4 separate regions of the Homo sapiens genome follow, and all the other regions are reported to be linked to region 2. The links are microRNA targets in miRTarBase. Many come from high-throughput screens and were not tested one by one. Region 2 holds a microRNA gene; each other region holds the end of a gene's coding sequence.
What was found. The annotated mature microRNA hsa-miR-4474-3p reads UUGUGGCUGGUCAUGAGGCUAA and lies in region 2 at 1,916-1,937, shown strand. An mRNA with a match to its seed (bases 2 to 7 or 8) in the 3' UTR can be bound and repressed. Matches are read on the target gene's strand: a 7mer-m8 pairs with bases 2 to 8, a 7mer-A1 pairs with bases 2 to 7 and ends in A, and an 8mer does both.

Region 1: the mRNA of C17orf99 is a reported target of hsa-miR-4474-3p. Seed matches in the 3' UTR shown: 7mer-A1 at 4,724-4,730.
Region 3: miRTarBase lists CTNNB1 as a target of hsa-miR-4474-3p. Seed matches in the 3' UTR shown: 7mer-A1 at 536-542.
Region 4: the mRNA of ALDH1L2 is a reported target of hsa-miR-4474-3p. Seed matches in the 3' UTR shown: 8mer at 859-866.

What each region holds. Positions count from the first base shown.
Region 1 is chr17:78,164,651-78,170,880 of GRCh38, reverse strand. C17orf99 (chromosome 17 open reading frame 99) reads right to left here. Exons shown (of 5, transcript NM_001163075.2): 5 at 4,584-4,992. The coding sequence ends at 4,835. SYNGR2 (synaptogyrin 2) reads right to left here and starts at 2,300. Exons shown (of 4, transcript NM_004710.7): 1 at 2,166-2,300; 2 at 1-64. The coding sequence starts at 2,264. RefSeq lists silencers at 1,838-1,997, 2,028-2,637.
Region 2 is chr9:20,499,214-20,504,213 of GRCh38, reverse strand. It overlaps MIR4474 (microRNA 4474), which reads left to right and starts at 1,872; the gene lies at 1,872-1,949. The region is part of intron 2 of MLLT3 (MLLT3 super elongation complex subunit); the gene reads left to right.
Region 3 is chr3:41,238,929-41,245,023 of GRCh38, forward strand. It overlaps CTNNB1 (catenin beta 1), which reads left to right. Exons shown (of 15, transcript NM_001904.4): 15 at 206-1,515. The coding sequence ends at 414. Among named protein-coding and RNA genes, the nearest start is that of CTNNB1, 42 kb to the left of the region's middle.
Region 4 is chr12:105,018,960-105,025,189 of GRCh38, reverse strand. It overlaps ALDH1L2 (aldehyde dehydrogenase 1 family member L2), which reads left to right. Exons shown (of 23, transcript NM_001034173.4): 23 at 711-5,400. The coding sequence ends at 766. Among named protein-coding and RNA genes, the nearest start is that of NOPCHAP1, 36 kb to the right of the region's middle.

The DNA of each region.
Region 1 (6,230 bases), not on the chromosome of region 2:
TAGACTCGTGGGCATTGCTGTAGCCCTCACCATAGATGCAGGAGAACACGATCAAGGCGAAGACCTGCCGGGAGGGGAGGACCTGGTAGGGCTGGTGGCCGCCTGAGGGGCACACACAGCGGGGACCCTGATGGGGTGTACAGATGCTGGCCTCTCCCACTACTGCTGTCCCCTTTTGGGTTTTTGTTGTTGTTTGAGATGGAGTCTTGCTCTTGTTGCCCAGGCTGGAGTGCAATAGTGCGATCTCGGCTCACTGCATCCTCTGCCTCCTGGGTTCAAGCAATTCTGCCTCAGCCTCCCTAGTAGCTGGGATTACAGGTGCCCTCCACCACACCCGTATTTTTAGTAGAGATAGGGTTTCACCATGTTGGCCAGGCTGGTCTGGAACTCCTGACCTCAGGTGATCCACCCTCCTCGGCCTCCCAAAGTGCTGGGATTACAGGCATGAGCCACCTCGCCCAGCCTGCTGTCCCCTTTTGGAGGCTGACATCTTAGCCCCTCCAAACTTGTGGAGGTGAGCTGATGAGCAAAGTGCTTCCTGATGCACCCCAGGATGAGAATCTGCAGGCACCAGGGGGCCTGCCCCTGGGAATCCTGGACCGGGGAGGGGTGGGGAATGGGCAGGGACCTCCTAGGCAGGGGCTGCTCCTGCCCCATCGGCCTGCTGCAGGAATCATTCTGCTTAGGTACCTGATGGATGAAGGGCAGTCCTTCCATCCCCAGCCCAACCTCACCTTGAAAGAGGTTTAACCAAGACAGGCCAAGTCACAAAGACTACCCATCCCCCGTCACCTTCAGCCCAAGTCACTTCTACAGCACCCAGCCTCTGCCTGAACACCTTGGTGAAGGTGGACAGGCCCTCTTGGGAAGGCCATGCTGGCGCCCCTGTGTCTTCACCTCCTGGAACCCCTGGAACCCTCCCTGGTTCAGCCTGGCCAGCTGTCTCCACACAAGGACTTGCAGCCTCTGTGGCATCCTGGTCCCTCCCAGTCTGTCTCCCACCCCACAGAGGGCCCTGCATGCACAGGGCACTACAAGGGGACTAACTCAGGCCTGTGGATACAGCTCTGAACTCAGACACCTGGAGGACCCAGGGTGGATGTAGGGGAGCTCCAGCCCCTTGGGAAGAGCCCCATACCACCTCCCTAAACTTGAAGGCCACCACCCACGCCTGCTCCACCTCAGCAGGTGTGGGACAGGTCTGTGAGCATCAGGATCCCTCTGGGATGGCCCCAGGACTCTCCCCTGCCAGTCCTGCCCTGTTGTCCCAGGGAGCTCTCCATAGGGCTCTGGAGCTGGCAGTCACAGGCCCCGCCCCCAGATGGAGATGAAGCCGGATCTCCGGGATGATGGGAGCAGGGTGCCCATCCAGGACTCCTGGCACTGCCATCCCGACCCACTGGGCACCTGATTCTTGGACACAGCCCAGGACAGAGGCGATCAGATCCCACAGCCTGGCTGGGAGCTGGTGTGGGCGCCCTGGAGGACCTCAGAAGCTCCAGGCCCAGGCATGGTCTGGGCACAGCAGGCCCACCTCTGCCTGCCCCCTCATGCCACCCCCTCCAGCTTTCAGGGCTGGCTGTCCAAGAACAGGCCCCCTCCCCGCCACACACACACACACACAAAACCTGGTTTTGGAGGTATTGCCCACCTTACAGGGAGGGGGTACATCTTGGGGTCCCTCAACTTCGGGTGGGAAGGCGGACCCGTGGCCTGCCCCGAGTGGGAAGGACACCCTGTTTCCGGGCGTTGGGTCGCCCCCCGCCCCCTCCCTTACCCCACGTGGCTTCGGAAAACCCCGTCCCGGTGAACTCCCCAATCTGGGAGTCGCGGCGTGCGGGCCACCTGTCCGGGAGCCGCCCCCAAACTCCTCCCACTGCCAGCGAGGCAGGGGCCCGCTCCCTGCGGAGATCCGGACACCCCGCGTCGGGGCGCGAGGCTGGGGGTGGGGTGGGTGGCGGGACCCGGGACCGGGAGGGGACAGCGGGACAGACTGTGGAGGGCGGGAAGGCGGGGCCCGGGACGCTGGACGCCGGCCCCGCTCGCCGCCAGGCCCCGGACGCGGCCGCCGCCACCTGTCGCGCTCGTGGGCTAGGGGCCCCGCCGGGCCTGGCGACGGAGAGGGGGTCCCCAGGGTGCCCTCGGCCCGCCCTCCCCGGGCTCACCAAGCACACGGCGCGCGCCACCACCTGCGGCTGCGTCAGGAAGCGCCGCAGGTCGAAGGAGCCGCCCGCCTTGGCCGCGCCGTAGGCCCCGCTCTCCATGTCGCCGTCGCCGCCGCTGCCGCCGCCGCGGAACGCAGAGGAACCTGCCCGGCGCCCCGCCCGACTCCACCCGCCGGGGGCGTGGCCAGGCGCCGCTAGGGACCGAGGGCAAAGTGCGGCCCTCGCGAGCGGCGGGCGAGCCGCGGGACTGCGCTTCTAGAGGCGGGGAGGGGCTGTGGCCGCGGAGCACCCGGGTCCACCCCACCTCGGGGTTGAGGGGCTAGTCTCCGGGCCACGCCGGCCGCAGCACGGACCAGAAAGGGTCAGAGAGTCCCCCGGGAAGACGGACGAACTGAGGACCGCTCACCCTCTTTGCCCCTGCCCTCCCACCGCCTCCTCTAGGAAGCCCACCACCTACCAAGAACCCACCCAGGCTCATAAGCAACCCCTCCCCCATCCCACTGAAAAACCCAGGCCACACCCTGGAGCCCCTCCCTGCCTGGCCTGCCACTCTTTCCTCCTCTCTGGGGCTAAGCCTGGGGTAGGGTCAAAGACCCCCTCCCCATTCCTCCTGGTCTGGGCAGAGCCCCAAGGCTGTGAAGGGCAGTGTGGCGTCACACTTAAGATGGTGTGCAAGGCCGGGAGCGGTGGCTCACACCTGTAATCCCAGCACTTTGGGAGGCCGAGGCGGTTGGATCACCTGAGGTCAGGAGTTCGAGACCAGCCTGACCAACATGGAGAAACCCCGTCTCTACTAAAAATACAAAAATTAGCCTGGTGTGGTGGTGCATGCCTGTAATCCCAGCTACTCGGGAGGCTGAGGCAGGAGAATCGCTTGAACCTGGGAGGTGGAGGTTGCGGTGAGCCGAGATTGTGCCATTGCACTCCAGCCTGGGCAACAAGAGCAAAACTCTGTGTCAAAAAAAAAAAAAAAAAAAAAAAAAAAGATGGTGTGCAAGGCCGGGCGCAGTGGCTCACACCTGTAATCCCAGCACTTTGGGAGGCCGAGGCGGTTGGATCACCTGAGGTCAGGAGTTTGAGACCAGCCTGGCCAACATGGTGAAACCCCGTCTCTACTAAAAATACAACAACAACAAAAAAATTAGCTGGGCGTTGTGGTAAGCGCCTGTAATCCCAGCTACTTGGGAGGCTGAGGCAGGATAATTGCTTGAAACCGGTAGGCAGAGGTGGCCGTGTGCTGAGATCGAGCCACTACACCCCAGCCTGGGCAACAGAGCAAGAGTCCATCTCAAAACAAACAAAACAAACAAACAAACAAACAAACAAACAAAACCAAAAACGAAAGTTAGCGAGGCGTGGTGGCAGCTACTAGCAGTCCCAGCTATTCCAGAGGCTGAGGTGGGAGAATTGTCTGAGCCCAGGAGGCGGAGTTTGCAGTGAACCAAGATCACGCCTTTGCACCCCAGCCTGGGTGACAGAGTAAGACCACATATCGGCCGGGCGTGGTGGCTCACGCCTGTAATTCCAGCACTTTGGGAGGCTGAAGCAGGCGGATCACGAGGTCAGGAGATCGAGAACACCCTGGCCAACATGGTGAAACCCCGTCTCCACTAAAAATACAAAAATTAGCTGGGCATGGTGGCGCGTGCCTGTAGTCCCAGCTACTTGGCAGGCTGAGGCAGGAGAATCGCTTGAACCCGGGAGGCGGAGGTTGCAGTGAGCCGAGATTGCACCATTGCGACAGAGCGAGACTCCATCTCAAAAAAAAAAAAAAAGAAAAGACCACATATAAAAAAATATATATATGGCATGCAAACAGAAATGAAGTTTTCAGGGCGACAGGCAGATGGCAAAGTTTAATCCAGTTCCAGTTCAGCCCCCTCTCGCCTCCGTCCCTCTCTACCTCCATCCCAAGAAAAACCGGTACAGAGGGTCTGGTGCAGGGTAGGCTGGGGCAGGCTCTGTGTGTGTTGGAGTGGGGAGCGGAGGTTGTACAGACAGAGGTGTGGGATCACAGGCTGACTGAACCCGGAAGAATTCCAGACCCCCCTTTGCTAGTTGCAGGTGCAGATTAACAACAGCAGGTGTGCCAGGTGGGGCTCACAGTCAACCCAGGTGAGCTGGACCACGTGAGAGTTGAACCATAGGACTGGGCCACCAGGAGGTGGGGTGCCTCTCCAGGGAAGAGGGGAGCAGGTGGGGGGGAGGGGCTGGGCCTTTTCGCAGTGTGCCCCCCTCCCTCTCCCTACACCCAGAGAGATGTGACAGCACCTGAGAGGCGAGGACAGGGCCACACAGACCCCCTTATTTCTGTGACCCTCCTGAAGCCCTCACACCAACAGTGTCTGTGTTTGCTGAAGGCCACCAGCACTCCAAGAATCCCAGCTGGCAGGCTTTTTTCTTTTTTTTAAATAAATGTTTTTGTGTATATTTAAGGTAGACAACCTGATATGATGGGATTCATATAGATAATATAGATAGCACAAAGGTTCCTATAGCGAAGCAAGTTAACATATCCACCATCTCTCATAGTTACCCTTTTTTTTTTTTTTTTTTTTTTGTGGCAAGAGCAGCTAAAACACACTCATTTTGCATGAACTCCAAATACGAACAGTGCACGCTGATGGCCTGCAGTCCTCTGCCGTGCTTGGCTCTCTGGACGGTTCATTCTACATGGCTGCTGCTTTGCGTCCTCTGACCTCCCCATTCCCTATCCTGAACCCCCCAAACTCCTCTTCACTCAGACGGCGGGTGCTCCTGTAGAGCGGCAAGGCAAGGATGGGGCTCTCCAGGGGACCCTGCCAGTCCTCCATCTTCTGGTCACCACCTTGACAAAGCAGTGGAGACTCAAGTCAGGCAGGCTCACCTCCCAGCCATCCCCTCCCGAGGCGTCTGAGAGTGTTCGTTTGTTTTGAGACGGAGTTTTGCTCTTTTTGTCCAGGCTGGAGTGCAATGGCACGATCTCGGCTCACTGCAACCTCCACCTCCTGGGTTCAAGTGATTCTCCTGCCTCAGTCTCCCGAGTAGCTGGGACTACAGGTGCGCACCACCACGCCCGGCTAATTTTGTATTTTTAGTAGAGACGGGGTTTCTTCATGTTGGCCAGGCTGGTCTCGAACTCCTGACCTCAGGTGATTCGCCTGCCTCAGCCTCCCAAAGTGCTGAGATTCCAGGCATGAGCCACTGTGCCCGGCCTGCCTCTGGGAGTTTTATGGTGCCAAGCACATCAGTGCCCCAGCAGAAGAGACATGAGGCTTACTCACCCCACTAAATGAAGGCTGTACCCCATTTTACAGAAGGAAAAACTGAGGCTCGGCGAGGTGACATGGCTCACCCACGAGTCTGGCTTCTGGAAAGAACAGACTTGGTAGAAGTGAGATGGGAAAGTGCCAAGGACAGACTCCTGGTAGAGCCACGTAAGGGCCTGGGCCACGGGCAGAGGATGAGAACCAGGACACGGCAGTGTCTCCCAAACAAAGAGAGATGAGTTCACAGAGGCAGGGCTGGCCACCACCAAAGCCAGACAGGCAGAGCACACAGGCCTGTGGTGCCTGCACTCAGACACTACAAAGGCCTTGGTCACTTTACATGTTAGTAAAGCCATGGCCTTGGAGAGGGGACCCTGGGAGGCTGGGCCCCAGGCTCTTGCCACCACCTCGGAAAGACTGCCCAAGGTGGTTCTCACAGAAGGCAGGAGCTCCTGGTCCACCTTGGTCTCCTGGAGGCATCATCCCTGCAATCCCTGCTCAGACCCCATAAAGAACTTAGGAGACTGCCCTCCCAGAGGCCAGCAGACTGTGTTACAGGGCACCTGGGAGCACTGGTCAGGGTCCGATAACGCCTTGAATGTGTAAGCCTCAGTAGGCACATGGCACACAGTAGGTCCTCATAAACACCTTCGAGTCATGCGTAAGCGGTGATGGCCGCTCTTTGCCCTGGCCACAGCCCTGCCCTGCAAGCCCCACCACCTGAGCTCTGCAGCCAGGGCCCGGTTGGACCTCTCAGGCCATCAGCAGCTCTCCCTCCTCCCTGCATCGAGCACCCATTTCCTACCTGGCCCACGTG
Region 2 (5,000 bases):
GTTTTGTTTCCTTTGGATGTATACACAGTTTTGGAATTGCTAGGTCAATAATTTAATTTTTGAGGAACCTTAAAATTTTCCATAATGGCTATACTAGTTTTCATTCCCACCAACAGTATACAGTGGATCCTTTTTCTCTGCTCTCTATATCCTTGCAAAAATCTATCTTCATCTTTTCGATAATAGCCATTCTAGCACGTGTGAAGTGATATCTCATTGTGGTATTAATTTGCATGTCTCTGATGATTAGTAATGTTGGGCATTTTTTCATACACCTGTTGCCTATTTGTATGTCGTCTTTTGAGAAATGTCTTTTCAAGTCCTTCACCCATTTTAAAATCAGGTTATTTATTTTCTTGCTATTGAGTTGTTTGAGTTCCTCATATATTTTGGATATTAGTCTTTTATCAGATGCATGGTTTGCATATATTTTTTTCCAGGCTGCAGGTTGTCTTTCAGTGTGTTGATTGTTTTCTTTGCTGTGCAGAGCTCTTTAGTTTGATGTAATCCCAGTTATCTATTTTTTTGTTTTTGTTTTTGGTTGCCTGTGCTTTTGGGGTCATATCCAAAGAATCATCACCCAGAATAATGTCATGGAGAATTTCTGCTATGTTTTCTTCTAGTATTTTTATGGTTTCAAGGTTTACATTTGAATCTTTAGTCCATTTTGAGTTGATTTTTATATTTAGTATGAAGTAAGGGTCGAATTTCATTCTTATGTGTGTGGTGTCCAGTTTTCCTAACACCATTTATTGAAGAGGCTGTGCTTTCCCCATTGTGCATTCTTGGCACCTTTGTTGAAAATCAATTGACTGTATATGTGTAGATTTATTTCTGGGCCCTCTATTCCATTCCATTGATCTGTGTGTCTCTTTTTATACCAGCAGCATGCTGTATTGATTACTGTAGCTTGGTAGTATACTTTGAAGTTAGATAGTGTGATGCCTCTAGCTTTGTTCTTTTTGCTTGAGATTACTTCAGATATTTGGGGTCTTTCGTGGTTCCATACAAATTTTAGGATTGTTTTTTCTATTTCTGTAAAAAATGTCATTGAAATTTTGATTGGGGAATCTGTAGATCACTTTGGGTAGTGTGGACATTTTAACACTATTAATTTCTCCACTTGTGAACACAGTATGTCTTTCCACTTATTTGTGTTGTCTTCAGTTTTTTTCATCAATCTTTTATAGTTTCTGGTGTACAGGTCTTTCAACTTCTTGGTTTAAATTTTTTCCTAAGCATTCTGTTCTTTTTGGTTGCTGTAGTGAATGGATTGTTTTCTTAATTTATCTTTCAGATAGCTCATTGTTAGCATATACAGATGCTACTGATGTTTGAAAAATGATGTTGATTTTGTTTCCTGCAGCTTCACTGAATTTATTTATTAGTTCTAACAGTTTTTTGATGGAGATGTTAGGGTTGTTTGTCTACAGTCATTCCTCAGTATCTGCAGGGGATTGGTTCCAGGACCTCCTGTGGATACCCAAACCCATGGATTCTGAAATCTCTGATATAAAATAGCATAGTATTTGCATATAACCTATGCACATTCTCCTGTATACTACACATTATCTCTAGATTACTTATAATAACTAATACATTGTAAATGTTATATAAATAGTTGGTATACTGTATTGCTTAGGGAATAATGACAATAAAAAAGTTCAGTACAGATGTAATTTTTTCTCCTAATATTTCAATCTGTGGTTGGTTGAATCCACAGATGTGGAACCCATGGATATAGACAAGCAACTGTATAAGATCACGTTGTCTGCAAGTTTTTTCACCTCTTAAAAATACTTGGTGGCTAGCTATTACCTGTAGAATTCAGCTCCTTACAGTGCTATGTAAGGAACATCACAGGCTGGCATTTGCCTACCTTGTTAGTCTCATGATCAGACACAAATATGGCTCTTTGTGGCTGGTCATGAGGCTAACAAGGTAGGCACCTGGAACCACACTTCAAGTCAGGTTCATTTGTGGTGCCCTGTCAAGCCAGGCATTCTGTATACTCTGGAATTTTTGCTTACATTTTAACTTTGTCAACAATCAGTACTCTTCGTTTTATTATTGTCAGATATTTACCTACTTTTCCTTAAAAGGTAGTCCCCCCCCCCCCCTTTTTTTTTTTTGAGATGGAGTTTCGCTCTTGTTGCCCAGGCTGGAGTGCAATGGCACCATATTGGCTTACTGCAACCTCCGCCTCCCATGTTCAAGTGAATCTCCTGCCTTAGCCTCCCCAGTAGCTGGGATTACAGGTGTGTGTCACCACCCCCAGCTAATTTTTGTATTTTTAGTAGAGACGAGGTTTCACCATATTGGCCAGGCTAGTCTCGAACTCCTGGTCTCAGGTGATCTGCCTGCTTTGGCTTCTCAAAATGCTGGGATTACAGGTCTGAGCCACCTCGCCTGACCTCTTGGGTGCGGTTTTTTTTTTTTTTTTTTTTTTTTTTTTTGAGACGGAGTCTCGCTCTGTCGCCCAGGCCGGACTGCGGACTGCAGTGGCGCAATCTCGGCTCACGGCAAGCTCCGCTTCCCGGGTTCACGCCATTCTCCTGCCTCAGCCTCCCAAGTAGCTGGGACTGCAGGCGCCCGCCACCGCGCCCGGCTAATTTTTTGTATTTTTAGTAGAGACGGGGTTTCACCTTGTTAGCCAGGATGGTCTCGATCTCCTGACCTCATGATCCACCCGCCTCGACCTCCCAAAATGCTGGGATTACAGGCGTGAGCCACCGTGCCCGGCCGGGTGTGGTTTTAACTGAGTCTCCTAGGTCTTAATGAGGGCTCCTTTGGATATTGTAAGTAATAATCATGGTTGTTGGTAAATTTGTCTTCATAGTTAGATGCCTTAACTATGTGAGGGGAAGGAAACTGTCTTATTTGCCTTCGTCACCTCACACATAGCAGAAGGCCTGGTATGTATTCAGTGTTCCATCAATATTTATTGTGTGGAATTTATTTTCCATTACATTTTATGGAGAATGAGAGAATCTTAAAGTAAATGAGGTGTCCTAGAAATGGTATATTTGAATAAAGATTTGTGACATCATGATTTATGGAAGTAGAAAGGGAAATATAGTAATTCCTAGGCATTTTAACTAGTGAATGGATACCATGAACCATAATTGGTAAATTATCCAAAAATCAATCATATTTAGCTAAGGAAAGTGGTGCACATGTGTGTGCATGTGTGTGTGTATCTGTGTGTTTTATAATGGGAAATTCACTTTAAACTAATGAAAGAATGATTTGAAACTCTGAATTATAGGCAATTCTTAATAATTATTGGGAGGGCTAGAGTGTAACCCAGGTTTCTGGGCATTGAACTTAAAGAAGACATTGAACTGGAGGGAGTTGAAAATGATGCAGCTGTGCATCAAGAGATTGCTATTAGTTTCTCTATATGACCTGTGGTAAGTAACTTCTGAATTCGGTTTTTGTAACACAGAACACCTGGAGGACCAAAGTCAATAGGGTATACTCAACTGTAGTAGACAAGATGGAAAACAGTATTGGGAGAAATAAGAATGGGGAAAATATTGAGCCTGGGCATGTCAGTGTATAGCTTTGCCTTAGAATTTAATTTGAACTGAGTGGTCAATAGTTCTTGATGCCCCAGGGAGAACTAGGATATATTCTGGGGCAAATTGAATTTTCCAAAGATTTCCGTAAAGTTATCTTTCACCCACATGCTCTTCTCACAGTTGATTTTGCTACTTCTGTCTTTGAGAGGTAGGGTCTTTGTCTTTTCTTTTTGAAGCTAGGTTGGCTTTTGTGCCTGTTTCAGCCAATAGAGTAGTGCAGAAATGATGCTATGTGATTTCTGAAGCTAGATCAGAAAAGGTGATGCTCCTTTCTTTGTTGAAATACGGTGTTCAGTTGTGAAACCTGCAGCCTTCATGTAAGCAGTCCAGCTGCTCAGAGGCCATTGTGTTGTGAGGAGAGACCAAGGGCCCTGAGAAGACCAACTGTATTAAGCAGCCAGACCTTTGCCCTGCTAGCCCTGCACCGCTCTTGCTTCAGGCACCATTTCAGTGCAGCCAAATGAGAAACTCTGAGCTAGAACCACACAATCAAACCTTTCTGAGTTCCTGACCCTCAGAGAAAGTAAAATGGCTATTACTGTTTTAAACTAAGCTTGATGGTGACTTATTATGTATCAATAGATAATTGGAACATGTTTCTTTGGAGAAGCATTTTTCCATTTTCTGTTAGGTGGTATTGAAGGAAGACAGGGATGGAATAAGAGGCATCTCTGAATGCAGATTTAGAGTTGTCACTGCATTAACACCTGTTCCCCCACATTTTTTTTTAAGAGACAGGTTCTTGCTATGATGTCCAGGCTGGATTCAAAGCCCTAGGCTCAAATAATCCTCTCGCCTCAGCCTTCTGAGTAGCTGGGACTACAGGAGGATGCTACATTTTTACACCCTATTTGGAGACAGAACAATAGAGATCTTAAAAGAAACAGTCATACAAGTTTTTTTCTTCATGTACCTTTACCTAACAGTTGTTAATAAGGGGACAGCTCAGGGTAGACCCTTAAGCTGAGCTGATTGTATTGCAAGGAATGCATCTATTTTGGGGAAATAAGACCATGGGTAAATTCTGCAAATGATTTCGAAGGTATCTCTATGAGAACAGTTATTGCAGCAAAAATGGACTGTTTCAAGGAGGTCAGAGCTTATGTCAAATAATTTATTGTTCAGTGTGTGTTTTTTTTAAAGACAATGTTTTTAGAGCAGTTTGAAGTTCACAGCAAAATTGAGAGGAAGATGTAGAAATATCCTGTGTACCCTCTCCCCTCACACATGCATAGCCTCCCTGTATCATTTACAGTGGGTTTTAAAAACATATTAAACACTAAATGCCTGTTATGGGCTGAGTTATATCCTCCCAAATATATGTTGAATCCTAACCCCAGGTACCTTTGAATGTGACCTTATTTGGAAATAGTGTCTTTTGTAGATGTGATCAATTTAGGATGAGGTCATCATGGA
Region 3 (6,095 bases), not on the chromosome of region 2:
GTGTAGTCTCATGGGTGGCCTGGCACTGAGTAATTACTTGGCTAAAGAAAGCTGGAGGTTGAAGAGGCTAGAAAGCGTTGTTTTCTGACAAGTTTGCTGCTGAACTTTGGATGCCCTAACCTCAGTGTTAACGTCTATGTCTGCTTCTCTCCTCTCTCTTTTGCCTTCCTTCTTGCCTATTTTGTTGACACCCTGACTCTTCTAGATCCTAGCTATCGTTCTTTTCACTCTGGTGGATATGGCCAGGATGCCTTGGGTATGGACCCCATGATGGAACATGAGATGGGTGGCCACCACCCTGGTGCTGACTATCCAGTTGATGGGCTGCCAGATCTGGGGCATGCCCAGGACCTCATGGATGGGCTGCCTCCAGGTGACAGCAATCAGCTGGCCTGGTTTGATACTGACCTGTAAATCATCCTTTAGGTAAGAAGTTTTAAAAAGCCAGTTTGGGTAAAATACTTTTACTCTGCCTACAGAACTTCAGAAAGACTTGGTTGGTAGGGTGGGAGTGGTTTAGGCTATTTGTAAATCTGCCACAAAAACAGGTATATACTTTGAAAGGAGATGTCTTGGAACATTGGAATGTTCTCAGATTTCTGGTTGTTATGTGATCATGTGTGGAAGTTATTAACTTTAATGTTTTTTGCCACAGCTTTTGCAACTTAATACTCAAATGAGTAACATTTGCTGTTTTAAACATTAATAGCAGCCTTTCTCTCTTTATACAGCTGTATTGTCTGAACTTGCATTGTGATTGGCCTGTAGAGTTGCTGAGAGGGCTCGAGGGGTGGGCTGGTATCTCAGAAAGTGCCTGACACACTAACCAAGCTGAGTTTCCTATGGGAACAATTGAAGTAAACTTTTTGTTCTGGTCCTTTTTGGTCGAGGAGTAACAATACAAATGGATTTTGGGAGTGACTCAAGAAGTGAAGAATGCACAAGAATGGATCACAAGATGGAATTTATCAAACCCTAGCCTTGCTTGTTAAATTTTTTTTTTTTTTTTTTTAAGAATATCTGTAATGGTACTGACTTTGCTTGCTTTGAAGTAGCTCTTTTTTTTTTTTTTTTTTTTTTTTTGCAGTAACTGTTTTTTAAGTCTCTCGTAGTGTTAAGTTATAGTGAATACTGCTACAGCAATTTCTAATTTTTAAGAATTGAGTAATGGTGTAGAACACTAATTCATAATCACTCTAATTAATTGTAATCTGAATAAAGTGTAACAATTGTGTAGCCTTTTTGTATAAAATAGACAAATAGAAAATGGTCCAATTAGTTTCCTTTTTAATATGCTTAAAATAAGCAGGTGGATCTATTTCATGTTTTTGATCAAAAACTATTTGGGATATGTATGGGTAGGGTAAATCAGTAAGAGGTGTTATTTGGAACCTTGTTTTGGACAGTTTACCAGTTGCCTTTTATCCCAAAGTTGTTGTAACCTGCTGTGATACGATGCTTCAAGAGAAAATGCGGTTATAAAAAATGGTTCAGAATTAAACTTTTAATTCATTCGATTGTGTCACTCTTTCTTTTTTTCTTGTCATTAATAAATGGTTTGTGAGGGTGGTAAGTAAGTTTATCCAACTCAACTTTATCCTGAACTTTATCCTGAGATAGATAGATACATAGTGAAGTAATTTGTTGTAGCGATAGAGAGGGCCCTACTTCTCTAGATGCAATTTGCCAAGTTTCTTTAGCATTTGGCCCTGGATTACGCTGGACCCCTAAAAAAGTGTTTCAGCCTTGCACATTGTGATTAGTTCTGGGCTTTGGTGGGAGAAAGCCAAGCAGACTATCCATCTATCTATCTCTACCCCAATCCCCCTCAGATGATTTGATTCCATTAAAGTAATGAAATAAATAGTAACTACCCCTACCTGGATTTGGATTTGAATCACCTTCACCCAAGTGTGACTCATTGGGAGAGGGGAATTCCTTCAACTGGACTTTGAACTAATAATAATTAAATAAATTAAATAGGTTTAAGTGTTGATGTTTATCTGAACATAATCAGAACCAGAATGAGCCTTCCACAGTACCTGCCAGATGATCCTATCATCCCGGTGGTAGGTCTGACAAGCTTAGTTCATCTCATCTCTTCAGGTAGACCTGTTTGTTAAGACTTGTGTTTTGGTCTTTTAAAAAGTAAAAGAAAGAAGTGTTTTGTCTTTAGGGAGAGCTCTTTCTGATTTACTGTTTTTATTTTGATGATGATTGATAGTGACTATTAATTATGAGAAAAACATACATTCAGTTCTTTTTCGTTAAAAATCAGCTTCATCTGGGGAGGCCTTTTTGTGAATGCCCTTGCTTTGCAAAAATGAATTCATTGTGGTCTAAAATGTAATTAGGGTTTGAAAAGAAACATTCACATAGCTGATGATGTGGTAGGTCTCAGGTTCTGTCTCATGTGTGATAAACCAAACCAGCCAGTATTTCAAGAAGCCTAGGGCTATTGGTAGGTTAACACCGTGAAGATCTTCAGTGAATTCAGCTTTTAACATAAAGAGCCACCGCACGGTGTTTCAATTACAGAAAGAACAACTTTTTAAAACCAGAGAATGTTTTCAGAGCTTTGCTAATTCATTGTATTTTATTTTTGAAGTTTAAAAACTTAATGTGAGAGTTAATCCAGTTCAACAAGGTGGCTCTGGAAGTACCAAGGGTGAATAATAGCCAAGACGCTTAGGAAAAATAGCACTTGCTCTAGCAGCTGTCAAGGCCTAACTACTTAATACAAAGCTAAAGTTAGTTAACCCTGTTACAGGAATAGGGATATAAATACAGATTAATACAGAATAATACACAGGCATTTAAAGACTCTTCAGAGACAGCGTTGGAGATCCGAGTGGGAGGAGAGCAACTTTTTCATAAAGGTGTGAAACAGCCGTTGGAATAAAACAATACAGAAAAACATCCATGACCCAACAAAATATCAAGATTTTAAATAAAGGCAGTAGTACTGATTTTTCTTTTGCCTCAAGCGCCAGTAAGGCTTGGTAGGGCACAACGCTGACAGTCTACACTGGACGCCCATGTGTCCAACAATCTCTGTTCACACGAGACAGTGCAGTGAAAAACTACAGCTTCAGTGATGTGGGTGTCAGTATAGTATGCATATATCTATCTCACATAACACTGAACAAAAGCAAGTTACAGATGCATGCTTTAGAACTCCATTGATCATCAATTAAAAAAAGGGACAAGCTATTTTAAGGAAAATATCCACAGATGGAGCAAGGAGATGATTAGATGACTATAGAAATCAGAATAATGGTTAACCTGGAGAGGGAGGTGCATGGGATGCTGGCAAGGTACCTAACCTTTCCTGTAAATAGTGGTGAAGAAAGTGAGGTCAAGTTTTCAATAAGAGAAGTAGTGGTGGGGAGGAAAAGGCCTAAAAGGAATGCTGCCCACTTGCATTTCCGGGTACAGGAGGTGAAAATGACAAAATGAACATGGCCGTTGAGAATAGGAGGGCTTTCCAGCCTGAGTGTTCTTTTTTCAGTTGTGCTGTAGTTATGAGACAGCCTTGAGAGTTAAGACATTTGATCCCATTGCAGCAACCACCATTGAACCAAAGAAGGAAGCTTTTCTATGTTGGAGCAGATCTTACAGACATGAGGCTTTGAAATCTGATGATCTGAATCCTTAATAATGAAAGATCTTAAGATAAACACACTCTTTAACTCTTGGTTGCTATAATAAAAAGATGTGAATTGTGCTGTTTTGTTTATAAAGCAAAAATGCTAAGTTGATCTGCAGTTCTATTAAGTGAGAACCTGCCTTTCCTTGCCTTGAGCAGATCACCCACCAAAGTGAAATTATGAAATGATGGGGCTGCAGGGGCTGTCAGGGCAGTTCTTCCTTTTTCTTTTATCGCAGCCTCCTATGTGGAATTCTGTATAATATCCATTCCACCACTTGAGACTCCAGTAAACGTAGAAGGAAGTGACAAGTTTCAGAGTTGAGGTTGTGGGGGAAGGTCAGAACAGGTATAGGGGTATGCAGGAAGGCAAAGGAGAAACCCCATCTCTATGTATTTCCAAAGTAGGTTTTGGCATGAATAGGGAAAGGTCCGTGTGTCCATAAATGTAATTTCCATGTTAGGTACGACTGAGAGCCACTCTGTGACAAAGCAGTTCTACTCAGAATTATTTGAGGTATACTCACGAGTATGTACAAGGAATTCATTGCAACACTGTCAAAGATAGCAACCCAAATAGGTGTCAAAAGGGAACCTAACTAGTTAAGCAAATTTTGATGCATCTATTTGGTGGACCACTCTGCAGTCAAAGGGGGGAAAAAAAACCAGCCCATAAAGCTGTGTTTTGGAATAAAATGGTCTTCAAAATACATAGTAAGAGAAAAAGCAAGGAGCAGAGTTGACAGCTGCTCACATATGGGTAAAAAGGGGTGGGTGCAGAATCTTTGTGAAGATAGGCATAGACCATCCCTGGATGCACACGAAGACCCTAGTGGCAATGGGCACCTTGCAGGAGGAGACAGGGAGAGGACTAACAGCGTGTGAGGGAGGAACTCTGCTGTCTATCTTTTGGGTGTTTTCACCAGGCTTCATTTGTACCAGGCTTCTGGATTGGATATCACCATTCAAATGTAATTATTTATTAAAACACCTAATGGATGCATTTGTCCACCCGCCTCAACATCAAGCCTCTGATGGGAGAGGCCAGAGGCTGGATTTTAAGGGCAGATTAAAACTCCTCGTTCTAGGCCCAGCTTCTTGCTCCCACACACCACTTCTCAACCCCACTGAAGCTTGAGGCCAAGGCTGCCTAGCTTTGCCTAGTCTCGCCCAACCCCACTCCAGACAGCTGTCCCAAGAGGCCAAGCCTCTTGTAGCTTTCTTGCAGCCTCTTCCCCCGTTCCCTACCACTTGCTACCGTAGCCCCTGTATGTATAAGATTATATTCTACATTGCATTTTTCTGTTGCCAGGGGAAAGAGAAAGGGCATCTTGCTTCAGGTGGAGACAGGTGAGACCTGGTGAGGGAGATTCCTCTCCCATCACCTTGTACGAGAGCCTTAGCTACCAGAGCCCCCATTTTCTCAACTATAACACAGGGATGATGCCCGCCCTGTGTTCACAGAACCGACCTGAGAACCTCATAGGAGAAACTTGAAAAGATAAACTGCAAAGAACCATAAGATAGTAAATTCTGTTGCTGCATTCCACTGACTCACCTACTTAGGTGCCATGAGTGATTGTCAGCACCTTTCAGGACACCTGTGACCAGAGTTACCCCAAATGGTGCTTCACGGAGGGACAGCTTAATGGGGATGCAGACTCGGCTGTAAGTTAAGGCAAGGTCTTAGAACTTTGGGCTTGCTGTTAGTGGAGGGAGAGGAATAGACCTGTGTGCAGCCACTCACCTGAGCCGCCTCTGCCCTATTGCTTGTCACCTCCTTTGCCTCTCACCTCTGTGACTTCAGTGACCCATTCATCCCTGAAGAGAGCCAGTGGATTGTAGCTAATAAGCAGATAGCTGAAGCTTGGGGATGGAGGGAAGGAGAGGGCTAGTAGGTGTGGGCCCTTTGCCACTGCCAGAATCCTAAGAGCTGAGGGGCCCGGGGGGCCAGCTCTGCTCTCAGAATGGAGCCACTTAGGCATGCCAAATACTAAGGTACAGGCCTGGGGAGGGCAGGGAAGGGTTACTGCTGTTAGCTGCCCTCTGCCCAACCAGTCTGCTCATATCCCCTACCTCTGAACTCAAATGGACCTGGGCTGCTGCTTTCCATAGGCACCTTTCCTCCAGGACACAGCCTCACCAGGGACAAGGCTTGGCATGGACTAGCTTTAGTGGCCCAACATGTTTGGCAGGGCAGTGGCTCTGCTTGGGACCATCATCTCCTTGTCCTTGCTTACCCAGATAAGCTTTTCCCCAGACAGGCAACACCGGGGCCTAGGGCCAGGACTGGCCCACTGAACAAAATGGCTCTGGAATATTAAGAGTTTCCTGTTCTCTGTTAAACAGCGAAGACGACTCCTTGCTCAAGTGAGAAGGGGAAATAAGAAGAATCTTCCATTGCTCTGAAATACCCTGAGAGGACTCCAGACCCAGAACCCCATGG
Region 4 (6,230 bases), not on the chromosome of region 2:
AGCCCTTGTTTTAGCTCAGCTTCCAGAATCACGCACTCATTAGTTTTCCCATGGTATTCAGTGCCCTTTAACCTCTGTAGAGATTGATGACAGTACTGGCTCAAAATAGAAACAGTCAAAGAAAGGCAGACCTATTTATTTTTGCCTAGACAGGTTTCCCTGTGTTTCTAACAAACAATATAAACTGAATTTTCCTTATCTTTAAAATAAGGTTAAACCAAATGATTTCAAACTTTCCTGTGCTCAGTTCTGCTTTAATTAATATAATCCAGAGGACAGTATCCTGGTTACTTCTGTTTAGTTTAAATGGACAAAAAGGCAGAGTCTGTCATCAAGTAGGGAAATAAAAGAGAAGGGTTTTGGTTTGAAGCTGACCAGGCAACACTCTCTGCTCCTTAGAAGGCCTGGTAGCTGGTCTGGGCTGTTACTATTCAAAGTGTGGTCCATGGACCACTAGCATCAGCATCATCAGGGAATGGTTAGCAACACAAAACCTCTGGGCCCACACCAGACTTAATCAGATCAGGATCTGCAACTTAACAGAGTCTTCAGATGGTTAGTATGAACTTCAAAGTGTGAGAAGCACTGGCTTAGGCCACATTCTATTTACTTAGTGACCTGGACACCTACGTATACCTATGTCTGAAGGTCTGAAGACATCACATGTCTGCCTCTGAATGTGGTCTGTCAACTGCTTTTCTCTTCCCTAGGTGAGGAAGCTCTAAATGAATATCTCAAAACCAAGACGGTGACACTGGAATATTAGAGCAACACCATCATCAGGAAAGCCTTGACAGACAGCCCTTTACAACTCTGGACACACTTAAGAAGATTGGGTGTGTTGAGGCAGGAGGTGTCAGCCACAAACCAAAAAATACACAGATGGACCATGAAGAGGGCCAGGCCATGTTAAAGCATTTACACATGTGCCTGAGTATTTTCTAATACACCTTCCAGTGATTTGGAGTTGTTGCATTTTGACTATGTTGTATATCATACGTATTTCTAAAATACCAAGCTGTTTCTCCCCTACCTAGACAAATCTATTCATGGTTCCCATCTTGAAGATGTCAGTACCATGCAGTTATAATACACAAGGTGCATTTATTGGAAACTTTGTATAATATGTACAGGTTTTTAACCTCTGAACTATACATAGGGGGTTATTAAAAAGATTTTCTATAAGTCTTCTAAGGAACAGTATAACCTGTAAGGAATGTGAAGGTAGTTCTTTTTTAGTATTTGGAAATAAGATACATCTTTGTGCCTTTGATATTCCATTTTTTAACCCACTGTGATGGGTGATCAACCTAGAAACATTATCTTGAGTACCTACTAGGTACCAGGTACTATATTATGTTCTGAGGAGTATAGAGAATTTAATGATATGATGGCTGGCCCCCACATAGTTTAAATTTTAGTAAATAGCTTTTGAAGCAAATTTTACATATGATATAGTAGAAGGCTGATCCTGGTCGTATCATACCATCTTCCTATCTATGTAACTTTGGGAAACTCTCGCAACTCCTCTGAGCCTCTGCTTCCCTATGTGTAAAACAGGGATAGTAAATGCCTTCCTCAGGACCCTTAATAGGAGAATTCATTGCAGTAATGTAAGTAAAGCACCTCACATTAATGCTTTGCTCATGGTAAGTACTCAAATTTAACTCTGATTTCCTCCGTCACCATTCTTAAAAGATATTGAGATAGTTTAATTAACTAGATGAATTCATTTCCCACAACCCTTTTCAATCATCAATTCCTAGATATTTTTCTCATCCATTGTTCTGACACAATGCCTGATACAGCAGCACTGAAAAATGCCACACAATGAAAAATGGCAATAGTACAAGGAAAAGGGGTGCTTTTCTTTGGGCAGCTCGCTCGTCCTTCATGGGACATCTTACTTTCCATTTTTCTACCTATTGGTTCTGCTGTTCACTGGCTGTGTGATCTTGGGCAAGATAGTAATCTAATATCTCAGAGCCTAGGTTGAGTATCTATAAAATGAAAATCAAATCTCTATCTCAGTAGGTGTTGCAAGGATTCAGTGAGATAATATACATAATGCACTTAACAAGGCGTTTGGACCATAGCATTGAAGAAATGGAAACTATTAACAGCCCATTTCCCATTGGCAGACAGAAGTAGTCAGGTGAGTAAATTTTCACCATCTATGTGTGACTAGAAGGCGGCAAATTTCTGAATCACATGAGTCTCCAAAAGATAGCCAGAAAGTTAAATTCTATTAATCCTCCTTTAAAAATAAAATTTCAGTAAACATTCCTTTTTCTTTGGCTTTGAAGAAGCCTTAGGGAATATTTGTCATTTTGGAGACTTGGCAGAATAACATGAGGGGATTGTAGGGAATCAATAAAAACTAAACAACAAAATCAGAGTCAGAGAACATTTTCAAAAGGAAGAATAGGAGGTTTGATCCCAGCATGATAAACAGAGCGAATTTGGCCTGGAAGCACTTTTGATTATACTATAGCTCATTTACCATCCCAGAGTTTGGCACAGCTGAAATTTTAAGTTGGAATGAATATTCACTGGGCCCAAAATGACAGTTCATATTTGAATAAAAGTGACAAAAGCCTTTTTATAAGTAATCACTTTTAAGTGAAATGTTTTAACTGATTTCATGTGATTTAGAATATGATTTAATCAAATTATTTTAATGATAGATGGAATGGCAGACAAAAACATGCCTGTCCTTCTAGACTGATTTTACTTTACCCTCTAATATTCATCTCAGTAGCAGTGTTTTAAATATTCTCTGGGCTGCAAAACTCTTTGGGAATCTGATAAAAGCTATGAACACTCCCTGTGTCCCGCTTCTACCCCCAAAATTCATGTGCACACACACAATTCTGCAAGTATCTTCAAAGGGTTCACAGACCTCCCAAAGGCCATGCTTGGGCCCCAGATTAAGAACTCCTTTCTCCATAGCAAGTTTTAAACATTTCTTACCAGCTTACATTTTTAGATCTGGCTGATCAGAATCAAAGGCTCTGTGTAATACATAAAGTTACCAAGTGAACTGGAATTGGAACATCACCCTCCCCAGCCTGCTAGGTGATTTACTTAACACATAGAGTAATAAAATCATCGCTGTTGCTTTAGATCACGGATTATTTTGCTAATAATGCTAAGGATGAAGCTGTGATCTTATTATCACCTGAATCGGGAGGTGTGGACACTTTAAGCAGTTCCACTTTCCTTCTAATTCCCCATCCCCATGCCTTTGCTAAAGCTGTCCCTTTTGCTCTAACACCCTTCCTGGACCTTCCTACCCTAGCTGGGCTAAGTGTTTCTCCTCAGCGTTCCCACTTGTTTCAAACATAGCACTTACCACTTGTACTAAAATTACTTGCCTTCTTAATTAGATATGAACAACCCTCCCCAACTCCAGTATGGGCCTTCTGTCAATAATAATACGATATGACAGCTACCATTTATTAAGGGCCTCCTGTATGAAAGACCTTAGGCTAAGCATGTTTTAAATGTTATTTAATCTTCACAATCTCTGAAAAAAATGAAGAAATCAACGTGCTTTTCTTACTACCTCTACCCCTAAGCCATTATTACTTTTTTTTTTTTTTGAGACAGAGTTTTGCTCTTGTTGCCCAGGCTGCAGTGCAGTGGTGCAATCTTGGCTCACTGCAACCTCTGCCTCTTGGGTTCAAGCGATTGTCATGCCTTAGCCTTCCAAGTAGCTGGGATTACAGGTGTGTGCCACTACACCTGGCTAAGTAGAGATGGGGTTTCGCCATGTTGGCCAGGCTGGTCTTGAACTCCTGACCTCAAGTGATCCACCTGCCTCCGCCTCCCAAAGTGCTGGGATTACAGGCATGAACCACTGCACCTGGCCTGTTACCTCTTTCCTACAATTTTGCTCAAGTCTCCCAACTGGTCTTCTGGATTCCTCTCTTCTGCGGTCCTGTTCAAAGCTTAAGTCAGACAGTGTCACTTCACTCGTCTGTTTAAAACCTTTCAATGGCCCCCATTTCACGTAGACCAAAGTCCAACGTATTTACCTGGCCTACTGATCTTGCTCCTAGCTACCTCTGACCTCATCTCCTGTCAATTTCCCTCTCATTCTGTTCCACCATCCTGACTGCCTTGACTTCCTCAACAGAACAAGCCTGCTCCTGCCTCAGGGCCTCTGTCCTTATTCTTCCTCTTCCCAGGGGTGTGCTGGTAAAATATTTAACAAATAGTTCTCCGGGACGGGGGAGAAAACCCTCATTTGTAGCATTTGCAGGTATCTATGTGTAAATACTCTCATCAAGGCTATTTTTGAGCCACTAATTTGCCTTCACTGAATACAGAGTTTGGGAAGAGATGCATGCCATCAGAACAAATGCAAGCCAGCACCAGCACACCACTGCCTCTTCCTGCAACTCTTGTCCATACACAACCTCATGGCTGGCTGGCTCACTTCCTGCAGGTCTCTCCTCAAATATCATCTGATGAGAGACACATTCCCTGACTATGCTTTCTAAAATAGGCCATATGCCCCCACATTCATACCCCATCTGCTGTCATTCTTTATTCTTTTTATAAGTGCATTATTTTCATAGCACTTATCACTACCTGTTGTATATTAATCAATGATCTTTTCCCATTAGAATGTAAGTTTCATGAACAGGTACTTGTTTTAATACTGTATCTCCAGTCCTAATGTGTAACAGGAGCCCAATAAATGTTTGCTTTCAAATGGAGAGGTTAAGTAACCTGCTCAAATCACACAGCTATTAAGTGGCAGAACAGGTTTTCAAGCAATGCATCTGGTGGTTTTAACTAAGTCGAGATAGTTTTTATTCCTAATGCCTAAATCAGGGCCTAGGTAGTGAGCTGTGGGCACATATTAAGTATTGGTTAAACTAAAAATAATAAGCAAAATGGACATTATCTATAAAAGCTTTTGTGGAAATGGCTAGAGCTAGGGTAAGGAAACAAATTTGGTTCCCCATACCTGCCCTCCAAGAAAATAAAGCTGTCAAGGAAAATCTGGGCTAAGAGTAGGATATGAGGGATGATGGATAAGGCATGAGACATGAGAAATAAGGGGGATTAAATTATTATTACTATTATACAAATGATGCCTGAGTAGATTTTTAAAATGATTAAATACCCAATGATGTAAAAAACATTTATAAAATAGGAAAGTAAGACTGACTCAACCATAATTTGTTGAGTCAACCCAAAAATCTATTTGGTTATTTTCAAACAGAAATAGCCTACAGATGATATCTGAGATTGTTCCAAACTTTTTCTATGAATATGTATACTTTTTTTACATAATTAACATAATACTGTATATTAATTTGTTACCTGCTTTTTCAATTAACAATATATCATAAGCATCTATGCCAATAAACACAATTCTGCATATTTCAATGGCTTTAATTCAACATGTTGTCTATCGTCGGACATTTAGATTTGCTTTTTGCTATTTTAAATGTCACAAAAAATCTTATATAAAATTTATGACCAAAGCTACACTTATGTAATTAGAACAAATACCTGGAAGTGGAATTCCTGAATCAATAATCCCACCAACAATTTTCCCACATCTTTGCCAACATTGTGTATTACAAGTTATGCAATTAGTATCTCTATGCCAATTTTCTCAGCTGTGAAGTGAATATAAGCATATCTCACAAGGTGATAGGCTTTTTTGAAAAAAAAATAAGGAAATTTATTCTGCCACCAAAAACAGAGCCCAGCAATAGTGCAGTATACAAGTTATTTGATGCAGTGACTCTATAATGTTCTTTGCTCTTGTCTGCTATCTGTAGTGTGCTCACTTTACCCTCAAGAGCTGGCTCCATTCATGGCCACGAGAAAGGAGTTCCAGGAATCATATCCCATCATAATGATAGGGACAGGAGGCAGGAAAATTCTGAGCAGAAGAGGATGGGTCCCCAGCGAGGGCCCCACTCTTAAGCGTGGAACCACAGCCCAAAATGAGAACATGCATTCCCATTTTCCTGCTCGAATGTTGCCTTTTCCAAAACTATCCATGGCCCGCCCTACCCCAATCCTGTGCCCACAAAAACCCCAGCCCCTGCAAGTAGAGAGAGGAGAAGAGGAGCAGCAGCTGGCCGTCAAATACTACAGTTGGATGTTGGAGAGAAGCAGCTTGACTTCAGAGGGACAGCTTGACAGTGTTGCTTCAGAAAGGAGCCCAGCCAGGCCAGGGACAGCTGGACTCCGGGGGA